Linked DNA regions of Homo sapiens. The protein of the gene in region 6 purifies or fractionates together with the protein of the main gene of each other region. This does not show direct contact. Each region holds a gene or a part of one and is shown on either strand. Other genes may lie near its edges.

The links.
Region 1: the proteins of HEPACAM2 (region 6) and CERK purify together in Homo sapiens (affinity purification with mass spectrometry; 3 studies listed by BioGRID and IntAct, with this or other methods). This does not show direct contact.
Region 2: the proteins of HEPACAM2 (region 6) and FGFR1 purify together in Homo sapiens (affinity purification with mass spectrometry; 3 studies listed by BioGRID and IntAct, with this or other methods). This does not show direct contact.
Region 3: the proteins of HEPACAM2 (region 6) and PTPRS purify together in Homo sapiens (affinity purification with mass spectrometry; 3 studies listed by BioGRID and IntAct, with this or other methods). This does not show direct contact.
Region 4: the proteins of HEPACAM2 (region 6) and ERO1B purify together in Homo sapiens (affinity purification with mass spectrometry; 3 studies listed by BioGRID and IntAct, with this or other methods). This does not show direct contact.
Region 5: the proteins of HEPACAM2 (region 6) and MFAP3 purify together in Homo sapiens (affinity purification with mass spectrometry; 3 studies listed by BioGRID and IntAct, with this or other methods). This does not show direct contact.
Region 7: the proteins of HEPACAM2 (region 6) and CYB5R1 purify together in Homo sapiens (affinity purification with mass spectrometry; 3 studies listed by BioGRID and IntAct, with this or other methods). This does not show direct contact.

The regions. Positions count from the first base shown.
Region 1 is NC_000022.11:46,693,253-46,696,752, forward strand, and holds part of CERK (ceramide kinase), read right to left. Parts: intron 2,064-3,500; coding exon 1,958-2,063; intron 252-1,957; coding exon 175-251; intron 1-174. UniProt on the Homo sapiens protein: Catalyzes specifically the phosphorylation of ceramide to form ceramide 1-phosphate.
Region 2 is NC_000008.11:38,458,636-38,462,135, forward strand, and holds part of FGFR1 (fibroblast growth factor receptor 1 isoform 1 precursor), read right to left. Parts: intron 2,621-3,500; exon of another isoform or gene 2,472-2,620; coding exon of another isoform or gene 2,461-2,471; intron 1-2,460. UniProt on the Homo sapiens protein: Tyrosine-protein kinase that acts as a cell-surface receptor for fibroblast growth factors and plays an essential role in the regulation of embryonic development, cell proliferation, differentiation and migration.
Region 3 is NC_000019.10:5,208,411-5,211,812, forward strand, and holds part of PTPRS (receptor-type tyrosine-protein phosphatase S isoform 1 precursor), read right to left. Parts: intron 3,359-3,402; coding exon 3,180-3,358; intron 2,396-3,179; coding exon 2,269-2,395; intron 2,185-2,268; coding exon 2,059-2,184; intron 1-2,058. UniProt on the Homo sapiens protein: Cell surface receptor that binds to glycosaminoglycans, including chondroitin sulfate proteoglycans and heparan sulfate proteoglycan.
Region 4 is NC_000001.11:236,222,959-236,226,458, forward strand, and holds part of ERO1B (ERO1-like protein beta precursor), read right to left. Parts: coding exon 3,311-3,500; intron 2,182-3,310; coding exon 2,112-2,181; intron 1-2,111.
Region 5 is NC_000005.10:154,048,967-154,052,466, reverse strand, and holds part of MFAP3 (microfibril-associated glycoprotein 3 isoform 1 precursor), read right to left. Parts: intron 2,911-3,500; 5' UTR 2,745-2,910; coding exon 2,450-2,744; intron 1-2,449. UniProt on the Homo sapiens protein: Component of the elastin-associated microfibrils.
Region 6 is NC_000007.14:93,212,970-93,216,469, reverse strand, and holds part of HEPACAM2 (HEPACAM family member 2 isoform 1 precursor), read left to right. Parts: intron 1-784; coding exon 785-1,069; intron 1,070-3,500. UniProt on the Homo sapiens protein: Required during prometaphase for centrosome maturation.
Region 7 is NC_000001.11:202,961,373-202,964,257, reverse strand, and holds the end of CYB5R1 (NADH-cytochrome b5 reductase 1), read left to right. Parts: intron 1-530; coding exon 531-616; intron 617-1,092; coding exon 1,093-1,192; intron 1,193-1,558; coding exon 1,559-1,731; 3' UTR 1,732-2,385; downstream 2,386-2,885. UniProt on the Homo sapiens protein: NADH-cytochrome b5 reductases are involved in desaturation and elongation of fatty acids, cholesterol biosynthesis, drug metabolism, and, in erythrocyte, methemoglobin reduction.

The DNA.
Region 1 (3,500 bases), on a different chromosome or scaffold from region 6:
AAGTAACAGTGACCTGACGCTGCCTGGGGCTAAGAAGAAATGGATGCCTGGTGCCAGACAGGAAAAAGGAAAAGCACAGGTGGGCAGGGAGAAGAGGCAGTGCCCTGAGAGAGGACAGAAACCCGCACTCCAGCACACACAGTGACAACACTGAGCCTGTGTTTTAGGAATTACCCGCAGCTTCCAAACCATACAGTGCTTTCTTCTGCTCCTCCTCCAGCTGCTGCTTGCTTTGCCTGCAAACAAAGCATCTGAAAGACAAGAATATCATCACCTTTTAAATATGGAGCTGCAGGTGCAGTGCGTATGCTTGGCACATATAGATGTATTTACATTCTTTTCACATACGAAAAAATTCCATTTCAAAGGCTTAACAAAATATTTTTTGGCATATTAATTAGAGGTTTCAGAATGAGACCTACTTTTACAATGACACATTCAACATGTCCTTCTCTAAAAGGTTTGGACATGAGGAGAAGCACAGCATGAGGACGCTGAGGTGCCACCTGGAGACGGTTTCTGCCTGGCCCTCCAGCTAACATAGCCTGGCTGGGAGAAATGACTGAGGCACTGGTTCCCCCAGCGGACTCCTGGGGTGAGGACTCATTTACTTTCAGAAAACAAATCATACAGGGTTTATCTGTTACAGTCAATAACAAGCAAATAACTCAGAACCATCAGCTTAGAACTTAGTCATTCGTCTAGCACGTCCTTCTGATCTTGGGGGCTGCCGGATTCACGCTGTCAAACAGGACACTGTTTGCACTGATGGAAATCGCTCATCAGCAGCCGAGTTCTTTAATGCACTGACGCAAACAGCATCTGCCTCTACATATTCTGATTTTATGGTCTCCAATTCTTCACTTAAAAAAGGAAAGGAGCTAGAAGGAGGTTCTGAAGTCTGCATGACTTAAAAGGAAAGGACGTGAGTGTCCTTCACAAAGGCGCAGCTGTCTCCACAGCCCCGTGTCCTCAGCCCCAGGCAGAGCAGAGACAGGATGACCATTCAGGCGCCCTCCATGGTCACTAGGGAGGTCATGCGGCCTGGGACAACTATGTTTAGATTTATTTAAGGTTCTATTTACACTGGTCGCATATTACTGAATACACTGTGTGGGGGTGGGGGCGGAGATATGCCAGGTGAAAGGAGTCCCTGCTTGTTCAGTGGCGTAGCCACCATTGCAGAGCCTGCAGTGGCCAAACTGGGGGACCAAATGTAAGGGGAGAGCGCAGCGTTTCCAGCTGTGTTGTCTGCACTCAGCCTCCCCTCCCCGGTGGGGCGCCTCTTTCCCTTTGCATCCCCTCTCCCTGGGCAGCTGCCCTGGCTCTGCCCCCCAACCCCTGGCACCAGCCCTTGTTGCCAGCCCGAGCCTTCTTGCTGAGGGTCCCTGCCTTCCTGTGGGGTTGAAGGCGTGGCTGGCCTGGGCTCTGCTAACCTTAGAGTGGGCTCCTGCCTTGGAGCATGGGGCTAACATGGGTGAGGGTCTCAGCCAGGGGTGTGGACAGGAGGGTGGCTGCTGAGAGTGCACACTTCAGCCAGCTCTACCAACGGTCCTGCCACCAGTGCCCTGCACACGCACAGTCACTGATAAGGTGTCTGCCATCCTTTCCTGCCTGCATTTCTCCTCCATCAGGCCCCTGCAGGGGGTAAAGGGAACCCCAGCAGGGAAAGACCCTGTGCTCAGCCCCCACTCCAACAGTGGGTGTGGGACCCTCCCCCAGAGTCCTCATCCCTGGCACAGCAGCAGCTGCCTGCGCAGGCCATGGGGACAGAGATGGGGACAGCAAGCCCCATGCACGCCTAGGCCATCATGGGCATCATAGGCATCGTGTGTCTGGGCACGCTACATCCGGCACCTTCCACCACATTTGGAAAATACTTCTGCATTCACCTTCCTAACCGTCCTGCTTCATTTCCCGTCATTTGCAAGAGAAACACACAAAGCAATGCACTTACCCTGCCCGGCAGGGCTTCCTATCCCTTGGAGATCCCACCGTGTGTTGTGCAGGGAGGAAGGACACTGTCCCTTCATAGCAGTGGTGGGAGAGGAAGGTCTTTAAACCTGGGAACAGAGTGCAGTGAAGAAAAAACATCCACAAGGGTCATTGCTTGGTTAGGATGCTGTGCTGGGCAGCTTCAGAAATGTCGCTGAGCGCGCATCTGCCTAAACCGTCTGCAGGAGGGAGAGGCCGGGCCTGCTTCAGGCCATGTCACCATTGAAGGCAGTGGCAGGGTCTCTGCCCTCCCTCAGGACAACAGCACGTCTAGTCATAGTGCTGGTGCCTTCTGACACCCAGTGATGCTGGGACAGCCAGGGCTATGGCCACTCTTGACGCTGGCAAAGTGGGGCCTTTGCCATTAGCCACCCCTCATAGCCTCGATGATGTGGCCTGTGGGCTCCAGTGGCTCAGGGTCATCCCCTCCACCTCTTCATGAGGGTCAGTGATGCCCCCACCTGCCTCAGGGCTTGGCCCCCACTGGGGTCAGCCACAGCCCCTGTGACGTCCTGAACAGCTCAGGACAGAGGCCAGGGCCGCTGCCACCCAAAGTCTGGGGCCACCCTCCAGGCAAACGTGTGCGCTGTCCACGGGGCTGCCAGCAGCCTGGCACCCGGGCTGTCTGGGAAACACCACCCAGCAGGACAGCAGGGACTGGGCAGGAGGCAGGAGAGGGGCCCCAGGGTGTCGTGGGCCACACCAGGAGCCAGGCCGTGTCCTGTGAGTCTCAGGGCGACTTCACTCCTCCGTGTCTGATGCTGGGGCTGGTGCTGCCCTGTATGACATCTGGTGTGGCAGTGACGGCCTGCAGGGCCGTCACACACAACCTTACCCCCGACACACAGAGGCCTCACATCCTCATCCGCAGATGGCAAGCCCACAGCCAAGTGTGCACCGCCCAGGGGTGGGGGAAGCTGCCGGCAAGAGCAGTCTGGCTCCTAGGACATCTGTGTGCCTGAAAGTCAGCTCCCGACTGTCCCTAGGACAGCCCCGTCTGTGGGTCTTGCACCTGGCATGGGCCAGGTGCCTGGAATGCACTCAGCGGGCGGGCCCTTCCAGGTGGCTGCAGCTCCGCCTCCCTGCAGAGTGGCTCTGGCCTCTCTCCCTGCTCCTCCCATGGGGGTCCCACAAGGACGTCGTGTCCACGGCCCTGGGAGGAGGCCGACCCACTGGTCAGCAACCTTCCAAGCCGGCTCCTCTCTCAAGTGCAGGGGGCAGGGGGGCAGCTGCCTCATCACCCAGACGCAGCCTCCAGGGTGGCGCCTCACCGACATCTGATGTCCCGGTTTCTGTCTGCCCCTAGATGGGCCCCAGATGTCCTACCGGCACCTAAAACTCCACGTGTCTCAACAGAGTGTGTCATTTCCACACGCTCATTCTCCTTCCATGCCCTCTGTGCTGCTCCAGAACAACCGGGTGCTTTCTGCCTCACAGCCACAGAACCCAAACCCGCTTTCCTGAGAGCATCTCAGGCCCTGTGGCCAGGATGGGGATCCAGAGAC
Region 2 (3,500 bases), on a different chromosome or scaffold from region 6:
AAGCTAAGGACCAGTAAATGGAAGCCAGGTACAGAGATAACTAGTTAGTAGCTGCTGGACTCCATGCTCAACTCCCCGACCTATGCAATGAAGCAGCTGAAATAAATGACCTCCTGGGTACTTTCTTTTTGTCTCTAAAATTGTACGAATCACATCCATAGTTCTACCAGCCTCCCTTGCAGAGAGAAGAAAACCCTCACCAGCTACTTACAAAGAGCCTAAGAGTGTGGAGCCAGGAGGGATCCAGTTCTCCCTGATGCTGGAAGGTGACAAGTGATGTCTGACGGATATGAGTCCAGAAGTTGCGGGGGGCAAGGGGGCCTGGGAGGTCCCACTGCAGAATCAAGGTCTATTGCAAGCACTGAGTCAAAGATGGCTCACACTGGCCCCAGTTAAAAGAACAGAATCTGCAGCCCTTTACCCTTCTCAGGTCTGGTGGGGTAAAACTTAAAACTCCCCAGGGTCTTAAAGAACGGATCATAGCTGTTAACATTTACCAAGTGACAAGACTTTCTGGGCACTGTCAAGGCTACGTGGGGGTGACCATCTCTATTTTCCAGGTGGCTTCTGTCCTAAATGCTCCAGGGAGCCATCCAAGTTATTCAGAGAATCTACTTCCCCGGAACATGCCCTAATGTGGTACTTCAGCCCTGCCTCCCCCGAGCCAGGCAGGGCCCCTCGCAAGTGAGTCAGTGCTGGCTGGCAGAAAAGCCCCTGGATTCTTGGCTTCGTTCACATGTGCTTGGCCAGCGGGATACACATGCCACACCACTAGCTCCCTCCCAAGGCTTACTAAAATGTTTTAATGATTTCAAATCAAAAGAGAAGTCAACATTTCTCTTTCATTTTTCTACTTTTACGAAAGGAATCAGAAAAGAGAAAATGAAATGAATACTGAACACCCACTATGTACCAAGGATGCCCTAAGTAGAATTAATTTAGAACTATAGTGAGGAATTAATTCATTCCTCACTATAAACTTATGGGGGATAAGTTTTATTATTCCTTTTATGCAATGGAGAAACTGAGGCTCAAAGAGGTTAAGTACTTTACTCAAGGAAATGTAGCTAGCATGTAATAGTGCCTCAAGGTTTTTGGATATTAGAGAACAGGGTGGGAGGAAGTAAATAAGGGATTGATCAAGCCTGACTCCATCTGATGCAAACTCAATTTATCCAAACCAAGTAGATAAGGGTAAATCCAAGGTAACTCTGGTAACAAAAGAGGCTTGATTTGCAGTTCCATTGGTCAAAGATAGACCCTTGTGCCAGGGCATGTTGGCTCATACCTACAATCCCGGGACTTTGGGAGGCTGAGGCGGGAGTATCACCTGAGGTGGGGAGTTGAGACCAGACTGGCCAACATGGTGAAATTCCTCGTCTACTAAAAATACAAAAATTAGCTGGGTGTGGTGGTGCACGCCTGTAATCCCAGCTACTCAGGAGGCTAACGCATGAGAATTGCTTGAATTTGGGAGGTGGAGGTTGCAGTGAGCCGAGATTGCATCACTGCACTCCAGCCTGGGTGACGGAGTGAGACTCTGTCTCAAAACTAACTAACTAAAAGAAAGACCCTTGGAAGCAGACCACAGATGGGCCATCTAGGACACTGCATGGGGCACATTCCCAGAGCTGGGATAGAAGCAGTGCTTGCCAGAGGATGCCCCTAAACCCATATTCCACAACTTACTACATCCCGAAAATACACCTGATGCAGGCCTGTCACCCAGAAACGCACACCTGACCAAGAAAACCCAGGTCCCTTGCTAAGTGTCAGAATACTGAACAAGTTCTCAGGTTCCAATGGGAAAGAGTGGTGTCATGTTGAGATGGTTAAGCTTGCTTCGACTTGGCCACTCTGTCCCCAGAAAAGCCTGCCGCCTCCTCCCAGGTGTGGGCTGGCTGCAGACCGCCCTCTCTCAGCTCCCTGGTCAATGCACTTCAAATTCATCTGCCAGCTTCCCTCTTGTTCTTTCCCAAAAAAGGTACAAAAAGTCTCTTCCTCTCCTACCCCTCTGGCCCTCAAGTTTGACATCTGTAAAACAAGGATGTTAAGAAAACCTGGCCTCCTGGCACCAACTCCTGGAATAAGAAGTCAGCATACACCCCATGCCACCCGCCTGCAAAAAACACAGTGACACAGGCCACTAGTCCAACATGCTGTCTGGGACCCTGCCACCTCCTGCTTCACCTCAGTTTCTCATTCTACTAATTAATGAATTTTTCCAATCCCTTAGAAACAACTTCCTTCCTTCACTGCTTGACAGATAGATGTAACCTGCAGCCTTGCAGGTGTACACAGCAGCTTCCTCCAAGACCCTGCAGCTGGTTCCCCCCGCCCCGTCTCTCCAATATCAGCTAGGCTCCTGGGATTCATGCCTGCATGCAGAGGTCCTCGGTGGGGAGCAGAGAGGGGGCACATCTCAGTTTCCCACTCATCAGAGGGGGCTGAAATACTTGCCTTGCCTCCATCACAGGTGGTTATGAAGACTGAATGGGCTGCATGGGTGAAAGTGCCTGCTGTCTTCTCACTGGAGTACTGATCCAACATACAGGGTGGACAGTGTCTGGTGAGATAGCAGGGGCTGGACGGACCACGTGACCTTGAAGCTCTCCCACTTCTAAGAGAAAAACCTATGAATGTCAGATCTCCTTGTCCAAAAATTATGTAAGGAAAACTAGCTGACGAATTCATGGCCAAATCTTTTTATTCTTTCTGAGACAGAGTGTTGCTCTGTCACCCAAGCTAGAGTGCAGTGGCACGATCTCAACTCACTACAACCTCCATCCCCCAGACTCAAGTGATCCTCCCACCTCAGCCTCCCGAGAAGCTGGGCTAATTTTCTGTATATTTAATAAAAATGGGGTCTCACCATGTTGCCCATGCTGGTAATGAACTCCTGGGCTCAGGAGATCCACCTACAGTGGCCTCCCAAAGTGCTGGGATTACAGGCATGAGCCACCACACCCAGCCTGGGTCTTTTTATTCTTGTCCGCTGGAGACAGTATGAATTCACACCCTTCCACTTATGATCTTGCCACCCTGGGATAGTCACTTAACCGTTCTAAGCCTCGGTTTCCCACCTAGAGGAAGCCACATCACAGGTGATTATGAGGCTCAAATGGGTGGTGTGGGTGACTGTGCCCATTCTCTCCTCTCTAAAGTACCAACCAAATGTAAAGAATTATGCATTTGGATTTCAGATATAATATTAAGATATTTATAATTCTCTTTGTGTAGTGCTTTGAGTCACTCCTTAATAGCACTCTCAGGAGATTTGGTAATTGGCAGCAGAAGGACAGGAACTTCCAACCTTTCCAAAGGCATTTCTCACTCTCCATCTTCATGTCTTATATTCTAGACCTGTGGCCCACACAGTGGCCACTGCACACTTGAAATGTGGCTGGTGCTAACGGATATGCTATAAGTAAAAAGTATACACCGCATCTTAAAAACTTGTTATGAAAAAAATGTAAAGTATCTCATCAATAATTTCTATA
Region 3 (3,402 bases), on a different chromosome or scaffold from region 6:
ATCTTGTTATCAGGTCAGCAGCGGCCATGGGGGTTTTTCTCCATCCTCCCTATCTTCACCCCCATTTTTTGTTTGTTTGTTTGTTTTTGAGATGGAGTTTCACTCTTGTCGCCCAGGTTGGAGTGCAATGGCGTGATCTCGGCTCACTGCAACCTCCACCTCCAGTGATTCAAGTAATTCTCCTGCCTCAGCCTCCCGATTAGCTGGGATTACAGGCATGAGCCACCAGGCCCGGCCCTCACCCCCATTTTGTACACTCTCTGCCATTCATTTACCCTGACAACTTACCGTCCTTCACAATCCAATGGTACTGCTTTCCATAAGAGATGCTCCAACCTCATCCTCACCACTTCTTGCCACCCAGCTGTTCCTCTCCCCACATTTCCTGTATGACATCCAGCACCTCCATCCTCCATCCTTTGCCATCCCATAGTGCAACCAGCTCTGCCCTTCCCAGCTCCTATTCACCATGATCCTCTGTCATCTTCCACTCTGTGCCATTTCGGGGCCCTACAGCACAACTCAACTCCATCACTGTCCATAGCTCATCAATGATGACTCATCTTCTACAACCCAATGGTGCCATCATCTTTCATCGTCCACCATCCAACACCATCATCTTCCACCATCCAATAACAGTGCCACTGCTACCACCCACTGCTGGTAACTCACTACCTTCTGCCGTCCCGAGTTCCACCCAACACCATCATCTTCCATCATCCACCACCATCCCCTCTTGGTAACTCATCCTTAACCATTCAGTGATGGCATCTTCCACTGACTGTCTTCATTCCCCACTACTCAACCATTCCTCTTTGCAGTCTCCTTTCCTACCACCCAGTGGTGCCATCCAACCACATCATTCTCTGCCATCTTCCATCCTTCACAACTCAATGGTGCCATTTTCCACCATCCATCACTAACAATTCATCACTCTCCACCATCCAAGGGTACCATCTTCCACTGACATTCTCCATTCCCCATCATCTGCCTTGTTCTAATCCCATCCTCCACCATCAAAATGGTGCCATCCAAAATTGTTATCCTCTGCCACCATTTGCCATCCAATGTACCATCTTTCCCTGATGTTTTACATTTTCTAAAATCTCCTTTCCCAACCCCATCTTCCTCAATCTTGTACCACCCATTGGTTTATACCATTGACTATTGTTTACTGTCCTTTCTTAGTCCTAGTATTTCCCATTGATTTTCTCCACCCCCTGCTGGCCAAACATTTGCCCTTCTCCAATTCTGTCTTCCTCCATCCATCACTGATAAAGCATCACCCTTCACTGACCCAAACTACCACATTCCACTGACATTCTCCATCCTGTTATGCGAATGTTCTTCTCTCCAATTCCAGATTCCACCCCTCCAAGGGCACCATCTTGCACTGCTCACAGCACAATGCCCGGTGATTGCTGTTCATTCAGCAGCCTTCACCATCCTTTGGCATCATCTTGGCCAACATTCCCCATCCTCTATCATCCCCTCACTGCGTTCTCTACCATCGTCGATCTTCCACCACTAACTTTGATCCTTTGTCACCCAACAGGGCCACCTTCCACTATGAGTCTTCATCTGTTGCCACCTAATACCTGGCCTTTCTCCCTCCACCTGACACTGCAGTCCTTCATTGAGCCAACACCATCCATACTCATCTCTCCTCACCCAACGGTGCCAGTCCCCACCATCTGACTCTCCTTGTCCACCGTCTACCACCCCTCACCCTCAATCCCTCAAGTCCCTTTCAGCCCTTTAACATCATCCTCCACAGGTGGCTGCTTCCAGAGGAAAGCCCCATTCACTTCCTTGAATATCATCCCCTGGGGCCATGTTCCCTAGTGAGTGGAGACACTGCAGGGTCAGCACAGAGATAAGACCCTCTCTTCCACCTATGTGGCAGTAGAAGCAAGTGGCCAACTGGTCAGCTGACACTTCTCCTGATTCCCAATGCTTATGCCTAACCCTTGGCCTTTGTATCCATCACCAACCAGGGCAGCCCTTTCCAGATCACTAAGGCTCCAGCCCCTCCCGCCAGTCTGTCTCTTCACTCACCCGGGCATCTGTGACCTTGAACTCTCGCAGGATATACTGAGGCATGTTGTATTCTGCCATCGGATCTACCACAAAGTACTGGTAGCGGGCAGAGCGCTCGGCCGGCCAGTACTGGTGACACTTCTCCTGTGGAGGAGATGGCGGCCGTGGTCAGCGCTGTCTGAGCCACAGTCTGGCCCTCGCCCTTCCCTGCTGTGGCCCCTAGCTCACCCGGCCCATCTCCCGCAGCTTGGTCAGCATCACCACGATCGTCGAATTGTTCTCCCACAGCATGCGCCAGAAGTCTTCCGTGGTCTCCGCCAGCGGCCCCTGTGTCGCGATGTAGGCCTTCTGCTGCCTGCAGGCGTTGGGGGTATGAGCCCAGGGCCGGCAGGGAGACCCGGCGTGGTACTCACCTGATGCTGCCCGGGAGGGTCAGGACCAAGCCAGTGACAGCTACACCTACCACCCCACTGCCTGCCAGGAATGGCTGCTGGGTGCACCACTTCCCCTCCTGGTGATCCCATTTTGCATGTGGGGAAACCACCAGTCTCATGACAAATTCAAATCCCTTGACAAAGCTGCGGGACTATCCACTAACCTCTCCTGATTTCTTCCCTCCATCTCCTTCAAGGGCCACTGCCCTACTTTCAGTTGCTTGCGTGGGCCAAGCTCTCAGCCCCGGGCCTTTGCACATGTGGCACCCTCTGCCAGGAACACCCTCCCCTCCTTTGCCAGGATTTCTCAATCTCAGTGCTATTGACATTTGGCGCTGGATTGTTCTCTGAGACAAGCTGTTCTGTGTACTGTAGGATGCTGAGCAGCATGCCTGGTCCCCACCCAGGCAGTACCAGTAGTACTCATGAAAATAAGAAATATCCTCAGGGTGTCAGAATTACCCCAATTGAGAACCACTGATAGAACAGATGGAATCACATTATGGACAGCAGCCATCAGTTAAACACACACCCAAAGATTCACGGACAGCAGCCATCAGTTAAATATACATCTAAAGATGTGTATTTAAACAGCTCAGGGCTACCAGTATCTCCCCAGCTCTGTCTCCCACAAGACTGGAGGCCTCTTGAGAGTAGAGATGGGCTCCTTCTGGGGCCCTGAGGTGGGAAAGGCATGGCACCTACCTGTAGCCATCAATGAAGCTGGCGTTGATGTAGTCAGAGCCCTCCACACCCCGGATGGGTTGCAGACAGACCCGTGTGCTCTCATAGGGCATGATGTTCACCAGGCGGTTCTTGAACTTGTTACAAGGCAGATTGGCACTGATGAAGCGTGACGTGTGGGCCTTGGAGTTAGCCAGCCGCTGTGGGGAGGAGGAAGCCAGAGGCCACCATCAGGATGAGGAAG
Region 4 (3,500 bases), on a different chromosome or scaffold from region 6:
ACTTTGGGAGACCAAGGTGTGATCACTTGAGGTCATAAGTTTGAGACCAGCCTAAACAACATAGTGAAACCTCATGTCTACTAAAAATACAAAATCTGCCAGGTGTGGTGGTGCATGCCTGTAATCCCAGCTACTTGGGAGGCTGAGGAAGAAGAATAGCTTGAACCCGGGAGGTGGAGGTTGCAGTGAGCCAAGATCGCACCACTGCACTCCAGCCTGGGCAACTAGAGTGAAACTCTGTCTCAAAAAAAAAAAAAAAAAAAAAAGAGAAGTTTCCTACACTGGGGAAATTCTTCTGCCTATAAGCATTTGTGTGCAATATGCCTTTAAGGTTGGTCTCACTTTATCTGCGGATAAGATTGGTTAAGAGAAAATTTCCTCATTTGTTTCACATGGCAACTGCAGAAAATAAAAATCATTTTATTGCATTGAGGGAAATATTTTATTGCATGAAGCGGGAGGCAAGTAGCCTGAAAACTCTGGCTACCACAAGCCCTGACCAGCTGCCAGAGGGTTGAAAGGAATCAATACCTTGGCAAAGAAAGACAATATAAATAGAACACAAAAACTCCTGTGCTGGTCATATTCTCATGTAATGTAAGTTCTTTGCAGCAGATGGAAAAGGGACATAGGTTCTCCTTCATACATTCTTGACAAACAGCAAACAAAATCCCAGCATTGTGTAGTTAAAAGCTTGCTGTGAGACACTTAGGCTTTGCTTAGTCTCACTTTCCTCATCTACAAAAACATACATAATTATAGTTGCCCTATTACACAAGATCATTCTGAAGATTAAAAGTAGAACATATGTGTTGATACTTAGAAAACAGGAAGCATTATAAAAATGAATTAACATACAAAATACCAAAATGGCAATATACCTCTAAAACAACTGTAAAATAAAACAACCTTCCAACACTAAAATATAGTTGTGACTAAATTACTTATTTCAGAAATACCAAGAAAGTCTCGCCAAAGGAGAATCACTCAGTATTGATTTATTGGTTCCTATAGTACATCCACATCTAAAACATCTTGGGGTCAAATGTGTTTTAGAATTCAGAAGTTTTTAAATTTTAGAAATACAGTACATGTACTGTATATTATGAAACATCTCACCAGAGTGTGAGGAAACACCCTGCAGTCAAATCCGTTAATGTTTCTGTAGCAAAATATAAAAAATTCATACCAAGCAGAATTTGAAAACAACCCCACAAAACTACGAATATCTGCTATATTCTTACACCAGTTTAGGTCAGGTTTTGCTAAAAAATTACCTTGCACTAAACATAAGAAAATGTTTCAGTTTTTGAAACTACCCGGATTTCAGAAGTACATATAAAAGACTATGAAGTTGTACTCAAAGATTATTTGTGGCCAGGTATGGTGGCTTGTGCCTGTAATCCTAGGTACTTGGGAGGCTGAGGTGGGAAGACAGCTCAGGGCCAGGAGTTTGAGACCAGCCTGGGCAACATAGCGAGACCCCATCTCAAAAAATAAATTTAAAAGTAAAAAAAAAAAAAATGCCAATTTCAAATACTTTTATGAACATTTTAAGGGTACAATTTGTTTCTTAATGTACTTTAAGCAAATGAAAATAAAGAACACCTAACATGAAGTTTGGTAATGTTCCCAAAACATATTCTCCTTCTGATGTCACATGTTAACAGGTAGTTTTAACCTTTTAAGTTAGTCCAAAGGGACAAAAACATAATATATGTTTCAAAAACCGTAACATTCCATAAAATAAACTTTAGAAAAATATTTATTGTCCTCAAAGTGGCTAAAAGCTCATGGTATTCTGAAAGCTGCATCAAAACGACAATATACACTGCTTTTAAACTAAGAAAACTTTCCCTCAACTAGTATCTTTTAAAAAGACATTTATAAAGGTGTTATAGGACATACTAATGACCAATGATTCACTAAGCAGTTGGTCAATGGAACTGAGAAATATGGAAAGGCTTTTTGTACCATTTGTATTAAAATCCAATCAGACCAACTCTGACAAGAAGCTGGAAAACTGGGAAAGAAAACAGTTTGGATGCACAGCATTAAAGCATAACCAGCAAACTGCTCCCAACCCCGTGTCCCAATCGAGAACTTTTTACCTTTAGTGACTTGGCCCCTTTTTTGTCACCTGCAAACATGGATTTCTCATCAAAGTGCATGGGAAAGGACCTGATAAAATGATAGTATTGGATTAAGTTACACATGAAAAATCCACGTACTCTGTATCAGAAACCTGATAAAATTTTCTATCCTTATGAATATTTAAAATTCATTATTTACTCCGATGTAAGTTTTGGTAATGTAGAAAAGTGACAAACAGTTCACACATAAACTATTTCATAAAAGACTAAAGCAAGACACAGATGGCTGTTAAATTTAGTAAGACTGTAATGTTTTAAATAAATGACACAGGTAATCTAAAAAATTAACTGAAAACAATCTATGTAAAAAATAGGCAATATTCCCTTAATATTCTTTAAAAATTTAATACATAATTTACTTTAAACACTTTTTAATCTTTCTCTTCCAGGCTATTTTAAAAACCAGTTAACTCAAGTTTTCTTGACCAAGCGTTTTGTTTAAAAGGTTATATTCTAGAAGATAAGGCTAATGTTTCCTTACATATCCATCCCAATGCAAACACATGTATATTATCATCTAAATTTAAATATAGTGACTAGAGGCCAGGCGCGATGGCCCATGCCTCTAATCCCAGCACTTTGGGAGGCAGAGGAGGGTGCATCACTTGAGGCCAGGAGCTTGAGACCAGCCTGTCCAACATGGTGAAACCCTATCTCTACTAAAAATACAAAAATTAGCTGGGTGTGATGGCACACACCTGTAATCTCAGTTACTTAGAAGGCTGAGGCACAAGAATTGCTTGAACCTGGGAGGCAGAGGCTGCAGTGAGCCAAGATTGTGCCATTGCACTCCAGCCTGGGCAACAGAGCAAGCCTCTGTCTCAAAAATAAGTAAGTAAATAAAGTGACTAGAAGAATACAAAATTGGTAGAAAGACCATTAAAGTAGCACTAAATTTTGATACTACATAAAATTTAGTGATATTTTAAAGCACTATTCTCAAGTGTGAAAATTTCTGCAAAAGAAAGCCTTATTAATGCTTTTTCATCAACATTTTCAGAAATATTTTTAAATTCTGTTGTTCTATTGATCACTTTCCTTTTCTGTTCTACATCTCCCCTCGGTTAACTTTTAGGAGTCAGTTTTTGTGTACTTTAAGTGCTACCTCATTTGAATACAGAGAGGAGAATTTCAAATCACGGATAGTCAATTCTTACTTTGTATCTTGAAAGATATTCAGTAGAAGAGTTTTTGTGTCAGCATCTTCTTCTGCATTTCCAGTGTAAAGATCGACAATTGAGCGCTCAAAATATGGAGCCACCTTTGACAAAGCTCGAAGCTCAATCAAGTATAAAAAGTAAAGATTCTTGAGCCTTCTTGGACCTTCTCCCTTGGTTTCCACAGGGT
Region 5 (3,500 bases), on a different chromosome or scaffold from region 6:
TAATTTTTATTTTCTTCTAACTGTGTTTGCTCACTTTCCATAGTGAAATTATATAACAAGAAGAAATTATTTTAAAAAATCCTAGCAATTTAATGCATTTGTTGAAGTAACTGCCTAATCTGGTATGCCTTGCACATATCAATTTTTTGTTGTTGTTGTTAAGAAACTTTTGTTGATTTTCTGGCAAGAGTAACTGAAGCACAGGCCAAAAAATACATCTCACAAGTCATGGTAAATGAAAAGCTTGGCAAAAAGAATAAAGTTGCCCTTAAGATGCCTATGCTTCCATTTTCAACCTAAAACATACTGCCTCTCTTCCACACGTGAAGGTATTTTCATTCAGGGAACACGTATATAGAAGTATACAAGTGTAAGAAAAGCAAAGCATATTGACTACGCATCTTGATTCACATCCTTCAATAACTTGGCTCTGACTGCATAATTCCTACTTTTGTGATACATTCCCAAAGCACTCTGTGCTTTAACTATGAAAGCCATTCAGAGATGGGAAGGATGGGCTAACCTGCAGTGTGGGGATGCATTCCAATGACTAGAGGAGGTGTCCCAGAGGAGGTTAGCGGACTGCTTGTTAAGCATTACTTGAGTGCCCAATCTTCAAAATCTCTTTCATCCCCAAGATTCTATGGTTCTGGATTATTTTAGTGGCACATAAATTAGTAAGCACTCTGGATTTTGTCCATTTTCATCATCATCCAAACTTATCTCAATCCTATAGGTATTAATATATTTAAAAGCCATCACTTCACTAATACAAAAAGAGGAAAACATGTAGTTATGAATATAGCCATTTTCCATAAGCTTCTGTTCTATGAACTTAGAGCTATGAAAACGACACCACTTGAATCCAAGGTATGATGAACTACAAAGACTCCATTCATCAACCATTGCACTACAACCACAATCTAAACTCTCTAGCTCACTTGCTGATAATAGCTCAAGATTTATGAACCTTATACTAGACTGACATGCTCTTTAAACTCCTCTCACTTGAGATTCATAAAATTTAATACAATTTTCCAGAGCTGCTGCTGAAAGCATCAATGATAGATGTTAGTGGTTTTCAAAGTAAAGGCAAAATAGAAAAATAAAACTGCCATTCCACTTGGCTGGTCTTGTTTTAACCTAAGGCTTTGTTTATGCAGTCAGTCTACAGTGATGACACTGAATGAATAATTCAGATCTCAGAGGTGTTTGGTCAGGATATCGTAGAGCCCAGAGAAGATAGGAGTCTGGTTCAGTGGGTTCAAATATGGAACCCCAAATCATGTTCAAAGTACACATTCCAGGTATCACTCTAATTCAATAGTTATGTATTTTAAACATGCTGATTAAAAATACCCTAACAATTCAAACTCTTCAATCCCTTGGTGACTAGTCACTCAGTCTATAGATTAAAATAGTGCATATGTCTGAAGGAAGTATCACCTGTCTCCTTTTGTGTTTTCCAGCCTAATATGAATAACCAATATCCTTTTCTATTTCAGAAGGCTACACTATCTTCCTAACAAAAAAATTTCTGAAAGTGTAGCTTGTGAGGATCTTAGAATTTAAGCTTCATCCCTTTGGCTTTTCATGGTGATTTCTTTTTGAGGTCCATTATAACTCAAGTACTCATCAAAAAGATCTTTATAACAGAACACTGGTTAGGAGTAGTCTGGATTAAGATATATTCACAGATCCATGAATAGGAAAATTAAATAAAAATCTGTCAAAAAGTAGACCTTGAACACACTATGTTTATGTGATTTTTAAGACATAAACAAAAAATGCAAAAAAAAATTTCTCATTTCCAGTAAATTAAGGTATAGAATACAAAAAAAAAAAAAAAAAAAAAAGAGCTGGAAGGGCTTACAAGTTCCATAGTGCCCTTCTAATTCTCTGAGACCTGACGTCAAAGTTTTATGCACAGATTGATACTCATTTTCAAAAATGTCCTGGATTTCCTCTAAAGTTTATAGTAACTAATTTCAGAGCAAAACTTTTTTATTTATAACAAATTTTCTTAAGTCTAGCCAAAAACCTTCTGGATGTATTCACACAGGGCCACCACACTGTACTACTGACATAGTAGTCTAGGTGAAGGGTGCTCCCAGAGTTGTGTTGTATACCACCTGTACAGCTGTATGCAGCAGCCCTGATTTACTCTACCTTCAATGAAGAAGAAAACCAACTGATCAGGAGAGAAAATAGCTCATTGTCATCATGTGAACATCTTTTAAATTTAGAATGATTCTTTTTTTTCTTCTTCTGGTTAAACAATTATAATTACTTTGCATTTTCTGATAGGTACAACACTCCAGACCTTTCAAATGTTTTAAACTATTCACCTTGGCACCTTATCTTTGAGACTTTTTGTTTAACGTGTTAAAAAATAAGAAGACAGAACAGGAAATGAGTAACCTTGATTAATTATACCCTGACCAATTACCTCTGCTTCTGCCATCCAGTTGCTGTCCTTTTGAATTGTGCCAATGGACATCTTCATAGTGACTGGCTGTGAGAAGACACTCAATTGAAACGCTAGTTCCCTCTTTGGCTATGATGACATCATCATCCGAGTGGGAACTTGCTGAGAGTTCAAAGCTTGAGGGAAAGGATGCATTGTAAGAACTACGATTTGCTTCCAGTGAAACCATTTGGTCGAAGTCCACATCTTCCAAAACAAAAGCAGCTGGCACAATAATACTTGCCACTAAAGTGAATAAGCAACAATGTAGCTTCATGGGAAAATGGGACAAAATCTTGTTTAGATTTGGAGAACTCAAAAACTTCTACACTACAACAAAAGCACAGCGGGTAATTTATTGCTTGGTAGAGAAATTTTCCAAACAAGTGGTAGATCCAGTTATATTTTCTAGTCTTCAAGATTAAAAGATGTGAGTAGAGAACCTAAAAGAAAGCCAGATACAAAGTTTAACCAACTGAGATTCATAATGGGGTGAAAGTGCGTATGTTCCAGAATGAATAGATGTTAATTAGAATAATTGGTGCTGACATTGGGGAGTAATTAGATGGAACAGTACCTAAAAATCTCACACAGAGACAGCAGAAAAAGCAATGAATTGGTAAATAGCAGACCTAGATTTTGGTCCTAGCTTTGCCACTAACTAGCTGTACGACCTTGGCAAGCAGCATTCTCTCTGGGTTTCTGTTTTCTCCTCTGTCAAATAAGGGACTGGATGAGATAATCTCTAAGGACTCTTCCAATTCTGAAATGCCATGATTCTATTTCATTCTGACAAATTTTATGCAACAGGGAGCCAATGAAGGCTAAAATATTTATCTTAATGATCTTTTATTTCAACCTGCACCATTACCATCTGTTGTTATAATGTAAATCAACTGGCATATCATAATCATAACCATGGAGCTCAAAATTTGAGTAATTCAAGTATGAAGATATGTTACATATAAATAATGCAGGGACACCTGAGGTGGGTTGTTTTAACACTGGAAAGAAAGCTGCACTTACTGCATAC
Region 6 (3,500 bases):
TTAAGAGCCTACTGTGTGGCAGATGATGAAATAAGACTATTTTCCTATGACTTGACTTTCCAACAGGAATTTCTATCGGATTTGTATTTTTTTCTCTAATTTGATAAAAGCCCAAGAATATATTTTATCCTATTTTCAGACTGAGTCAGTGTTGAAATAAATGTAGGTTTTGGTTTGTTAAAGTGCCTAACATAATGTTACAACACAAATGCAAAGCAATTAAAGTTTATAATTGCTTCATGACATACATAGAAAGAATAGTTTTACATATGTGATTCACTAAAATTATCCCTCAGTTTCCCAAAAGTATAGTATATATGTTAGCTGTATATTTTGCAGATGATAGAAATTTGAGTTCACCACATCCATCCCAACCAGCTGCTATTGGGACATTAGGACAAATCAATAGAGGGGAATAACCATAAAAATTTTGCCTGTGAAAGTGTACCTTTATGGTGTTGGTGAAAGCACAATGAACAGGAAATAAGGAAGCTGACATTCTCAGCCACCTATAAAGTAAAGGGCTTCATTAGACCATCCTTGAAAAGTAAGTTCTGGAATTTGATTATCTCTGACTATAAATGATATTCTCATATTTTGTCATTTTGCATTTTCCCTGGCTTTTTATTCTCTTCTCTTCTTTAGTTATTACCTGAGCTGTCTACATTTACAGTGTAAAATGCTGGAATAATTTCTCCAGGAGTTCATATTTGAAAGACCTCATAGGGTTTTATTATATTTCCATGAAAAGAAAAAATCATTCATATCTCTCTTAATATTGCAGATCCTGTCACAAAGCCAGTGGTGCAGATTCATCCTCCCTCTGGGGCTGTGGAGTATGTGGGGAACATGACCCTGACATGCCATGTGGAAGGGGGCACTCGGCTAGCTTACCAATGGCTAAAAAATGGGAGACCTGTCCACACCAGCTCCACCTACTCCTTTTCTCCCCAAAACAATACCCTTCATATTGCTCCAGTAACCAAGGAAGACATTGGGAATTACAGCTGCCTGGTGAGGAACCCTGTCAGTGAAATGGAAAGTGATATCATTATGCCCATCATATATTGTAAGTTTATTTTTTTTTAACTCATGAGTTGTTTTTTGTTGTTTTCTGAGAATATCTCCCAGGATAGTCACAGAGAATATAAGTACCAGATGTCATTTGGCTTTTTACCATTATTGTAGTTCAATAGTTCTAATCACACCTCCTAGGCACTGTCTTGTATGAAATATGTCTGCTAGCACAATCCTATTTCTTAAAGATCAAGTTGAAATACTGGCCAGGGGCCACTCAGGTTGTATTTCGTGATTCAGTCTATTGTGCGACCTCATTTCCAGCGGAAAGCAAGATTCTCAATTTCAAGAACCCAGAACAATGCAGAGGCTGCAATGAAAAAAACTGAAAGAATATCTTGAGAACTTTTTTCCTCTCCAAATATTACCATTCCTGAATTTAACATACTTTATTCTTCTCTTGTAAAATATTTTCTTTACATCAATTCTTTCTTCTAGCTCTTTATCTGTATGTCTTCCCATCCCTACCTGCCTGTCTTTAAACTCTAGCCATAGGTTTAAATGAAAAAGTCCTGGGGAAATTTACTTAAGCAATTATAGGCAAATGCAAATATCATTTTTGACATATACTTTTGTTTTGCTATACAGTTCATATTAATCTGGCAAAATGAAAATAACATCTTTCTTTCAACATGTGCAAGTCTATGCACCAATCTCATTATTATCACAGAATATGCTGTGATACACAGTGTGGAAAATATAAAAATGGGAGAGAAAACCATAATCAAACCTGCAAATGTTAAATATTATGCTTTAGGCTCCTAAGCCTTCTTTCCTTCACGATGTTATTTGAAAGAATGAGAATACCCCAATTTGAGTAAGTTCACACTTTACAGAATCTATCTTTTGCTGACAGACTGAACTTTCTTCTTTACATTATTTTAAACATTACCTATGAAAATCTCATAGAGAAACACCTATCACATGCAAAGACTAACGACAGATAATAGAAAGAAGAACATTTAGACAATTTACAAATGTGGCTTCCATTTACACATTGTAAAGATGAATTATCTACATGGCTTAAGAAAGATTTTGACTCATTAATTGGTAATTGTGAACATTGCATTACTAATTTTTGTCTTCACTATTTTTACTTTCAAATGCAGAATTCTTCACTTGGTCAACATCTCATCTTATTGATATTCATTCATTCACTTACTTATTCATTTATGCACTCATTCATTTATAGATTATTTGATTTTAAAAAATGAAACATCAGGGTCTTGTTTGTGCTAAACAATTACTACCTACCATATAACATGTACAAACACAACCCAGACCCATTAATTTAATAATTTTTCTTGCTATCACTATTTTAGCCCTGTTTTTGTTCTGGTTGGTTGGTTTTGTTGCTTTTGAGTAACAAAAATTAAATAAAATATATACTGTAATCTGAAGATTGGTTGTATATCCTATCTGTGGATGTGGCATCCAAATGTTTACAATCTTTATCATTCCCTGCAAGCTGGGAATATGTGCCTTGGTTGGTGTTATTCACACTTCTCTTTCTTCATCTGGTTGCCTTCTTCTTGCCTCATGACATCATCATCCTTTCCAGAAAGGTTTACCTGCCTCCACTTATCTCACCTCCTCAGTGTCACTAACAGGTTCATTGTGCTCCTTCAGCATCCTAGGCACTCTCATTCCGGGTCCTCACTGCTTTATATTTTCCTTGACTCTTGTGAACACCCCAAACCCAAACCAGAGTTCTGCATTCTTCATCTTTGTATCCATAGGGCAATAGCTGACAGAGATTAAGAAATCAATAAAGTTTCTTGAACTTAACTAAAATGGAACAGATTATCTTTCTTCATATCCCTTTTAGATTCCAGTGTTACTTGACGATGCTGTAAAAAGGCTAAATTCTCATTATAAGGTGACAGCTTCTTCATTATAGTGCTTTGGCACTTTTTTTTCCTGACCTTTAGCAAAATCAAGTATTCTGTTTTCTAAAGGCACTGTTTCTGTGAAGGGTTTTTTCATGAAAGTAGGAACTATTTTTTATTTTGGCAGAAAAAGTATAATAAAATCTATTAAGATTGACTATATACTTATGAGGTTGTGATGTCATAATCTGGTATTGGCCTTGGTGGAATACAATGTCAAGCCAATAACTCAGACAAGTATCTACTTGCAGTTCATGATATGCCTTCAAGCTCCAGTTGTAAATAATAACCCAGTAACCACTGCATTTTGTGTGCAACATATGGCAATGCTGCAGTGGAGAGCTCTAAGTGATAAAAATTAAAGGGGAAAAAAGGTCATTCACAGTAAATACTTACCATCTGCTCCCAAGCAGGGCGGCAAACAGCATCATGATGTAAATTTAGGCACTGTTCCCACACAGCCATAAATTGTTAAAGAGAACAGATGATATGTGATTTTACAAGTCATTTAGTAAACAGCCATCCCCAAGGCAA
Region 7 (2,885 bases), on a different chromosome or scaffold from region 6:
CTATATATTAGACACAAAAATTAGACACATATATAGGTATCTATGAAGTAGGTACTAGCCTTTTCCTTTTACAGAGAGACAATGGGGTTCCAGAGAGGCTAAATGATTTCCACAGGGTTATTTCACTGGTAATGGCCTGGAGCAAAATTAGTATTTGGCTCTGCCTAGTGCCTAAGTACATGCACTTAACCTCTGCAAATACAGTGTTCTAGAACCCTCATCATTGAATCCGGAGGTACTTGTAGTCATTTGTGACACTGGAGTCCTAGCCTCCAAAGGACTTTCAGAAGAGTCTTAGATTAGTTCCTAAGAAAGATTTCTACAATATGAACTTAGATGAATTTGAAGGGTGCCCGGAAATACAGATGTTGGAGAATATGCAGGAAGAGTTTAGAGGATGAGAATGCTAAAGGAAAATGGAGTGGAGTGGTGAATGAGCAGAATGAAGATGAAAGGGCTGGTCAGCTAAGGAGCCAGGACAGGGCAGAGAGTGTGGCCACTACATTTCACTGTGGGGTATCTTCATGCAGGAATCACCCCAATGCTACAGCTGATCCGGGCCATCCTGAAAGTCCCTGAAGATCCAACCCAGTGCTTTCTGCTTTTTGCCAACCAGGTTGGTTTGTTTTCCTCCACCCTAAGACTTCAAAGTTGCTGTGTGGGTAGGGCTGAGAGACGTGGTATGGATGGGCAGAACTGGCCCAGTGCCCTGTTTTAGCCTCTGCCCAAGGTCCCCTCTGTAAGGCACAGGGTCCTCTTTCAATAAGGAGGAAAAGGACAGAGCACTGAATCAAATTCCTTCCCTGGTCCCCAAGGAAAGAAGAAAACTTTTAAGGTATCTAGTCTGGAGCACAGAAACTTAGATCTTCTTGGTTAAATATTCATCTTTGTTCCTTCATAATGTGTAGATAAAGGCTGTTCCCCTCTTCTCCTCATCCTAACTCCCTAAAAGCACTGCAAGTCTTGCTTATTTCCTAGAACTTTTGCTTTCCCTTAACATTCTTTTTCTTAGTTGGAAAGTTGTATAGCAGAAAACTTTTTATGTGGGCCTGAGAAGACTCCTAAAGACTTTCCTTCCCCTTTGCATTTCAGACAGAAAAGGATATCATCTTGCGGGAGGACTTAGAGGAACTGCAGGCCCGCTATCCCAATCGCTTTAAGCTCTGGTTCACTCTGGATCATCCCCCAAAAGGTATCCTTCCCATTTCTGGACATCCCACTATCCCCTCATCGTCAAAATCAAAGCCTTGCCCCTTTGTGAATTCTGGCTTCATTGAAATCAACCTTGCCTCACACTGCCAACTCGGAAGTCTGAGTGCACAGACACAGTGATCTCCTGGTCCCTTTCCTTTGGGTTCCTGTTTACCAGGTGGGTGACAGGGATGGCGGTGCTGCTAAGGCTCAGCTTGAGGCAGGCTGAGTATACCCATTCCCAGCTGCTGCTACCACTTGACACTTTCTCCAGAGCCTTTCAGGGCCCTCCCCAGTCTCATGGCACCACACCCCCTTGCCAGCATGTATCTGGAGTATTAAGTACTTTCTTCTCCCCATACTTCAGATTGGGCCTACAGCAAGGGCTTTGTGACTGCCGACATGATCCGGGAACACCTGCCCGCTCCAGGGGATGATGTGCTGGTACTGCTTTGTGGGCCACCCCCAATGGTGCAGCTGGCCTGCCATCCCAACTTGGACAAACTGGGCTACTCACAAAAGATGCGATTCACCTACTGAGCATCCTCCAGCTTCCCTGGTGCTGTTCGCTGCAGTTGTTCCCCATCAGTACTCAAGCACTATAAGCCTTAGATTCCTTTCCTCAGAGTTTCAGGTTTTTTCAGTTACATCTAGAGCTGAAATCTGGATAGTACCTGCAGGAACAATATTCCTGTAGCCATGGAAGAGGGCCAAGGCTCAGTCACTCCTTGGATGGCCTCCTAAATCTCCCCGTGGCAACAGGTCCAGGAGAGGCCCATGGAGCAGTCTCTTCCATGGAGTAAGAAGGAAGGGAGCATGTACGCTTGGTCCAAGATTGGCTAGTTCCTTGATAGCATCTTACTCTCACCTTCTTTGTGTCTGTGATGAAAGGAACAGTCTGTGCAATGGGTTTTACTTAAACTTCACTGTTCAACCTATGAGCAAATCTGTATGTGTGAGTATAAGTTGAGCATAGCATACTTCCAGAGGTGGTCTTATGGAGATGGCAAGAAAGGAGGAAATGATTTCTTCAGATCTCAAAGGAGTCTGAAATATCATATTTCTGTGTGTGTCTCTCTCAGCCCCTGCCCAGGCTAGAGGGAAACAGCTACTGATAATCGAAAACTGCTGTTTGTGGCAGGAACCCCTGGCTGTGCAAATAAATGGGGCTGAGGCCCCTGTGTGATATTGAAAGGGTTGTTGTGTCTGGGGTCCTTGTTTCCAAATCCCCGAGGACCTAGGGAGGAAGGGTTTGCCACCATGCAACTCTCCCAGGTGTTCCAAAGAACCTTTGAGAAGTTGTACCATGTGCTGAAATGTGAGCTGCCAGCAGACTCAGTGATCATCTCAGCAGCTGTCTCAGCAGAGCCAGAGCTCCGCTTCTCCCTGGAGGCTCTCGAGGTGGGGGAAGGAGAACACACATTAGAGGGGACATTTTTGAGCCCAGCTGCCCCTCACAGTGTTCCCTTGATAGGCCACTCTTCCCCTTCTTCCTTCTCTTGGCCTATCCTTCACCATATTTATCCTTCAGGGAACCTGGCACACAAATCAAAGTGTTGTCTTTCTGTTTGGAAGGGAAGCCTTCTTCTTTAAAAAGTAACCTGACATCACCAGCCCTGGCCGGAATTGTTGATGCCCAGATAGAGTTGGCCTCCCCCAGGCTCATCTGTCCTGAGTACCCTTCTCCTCTGCTA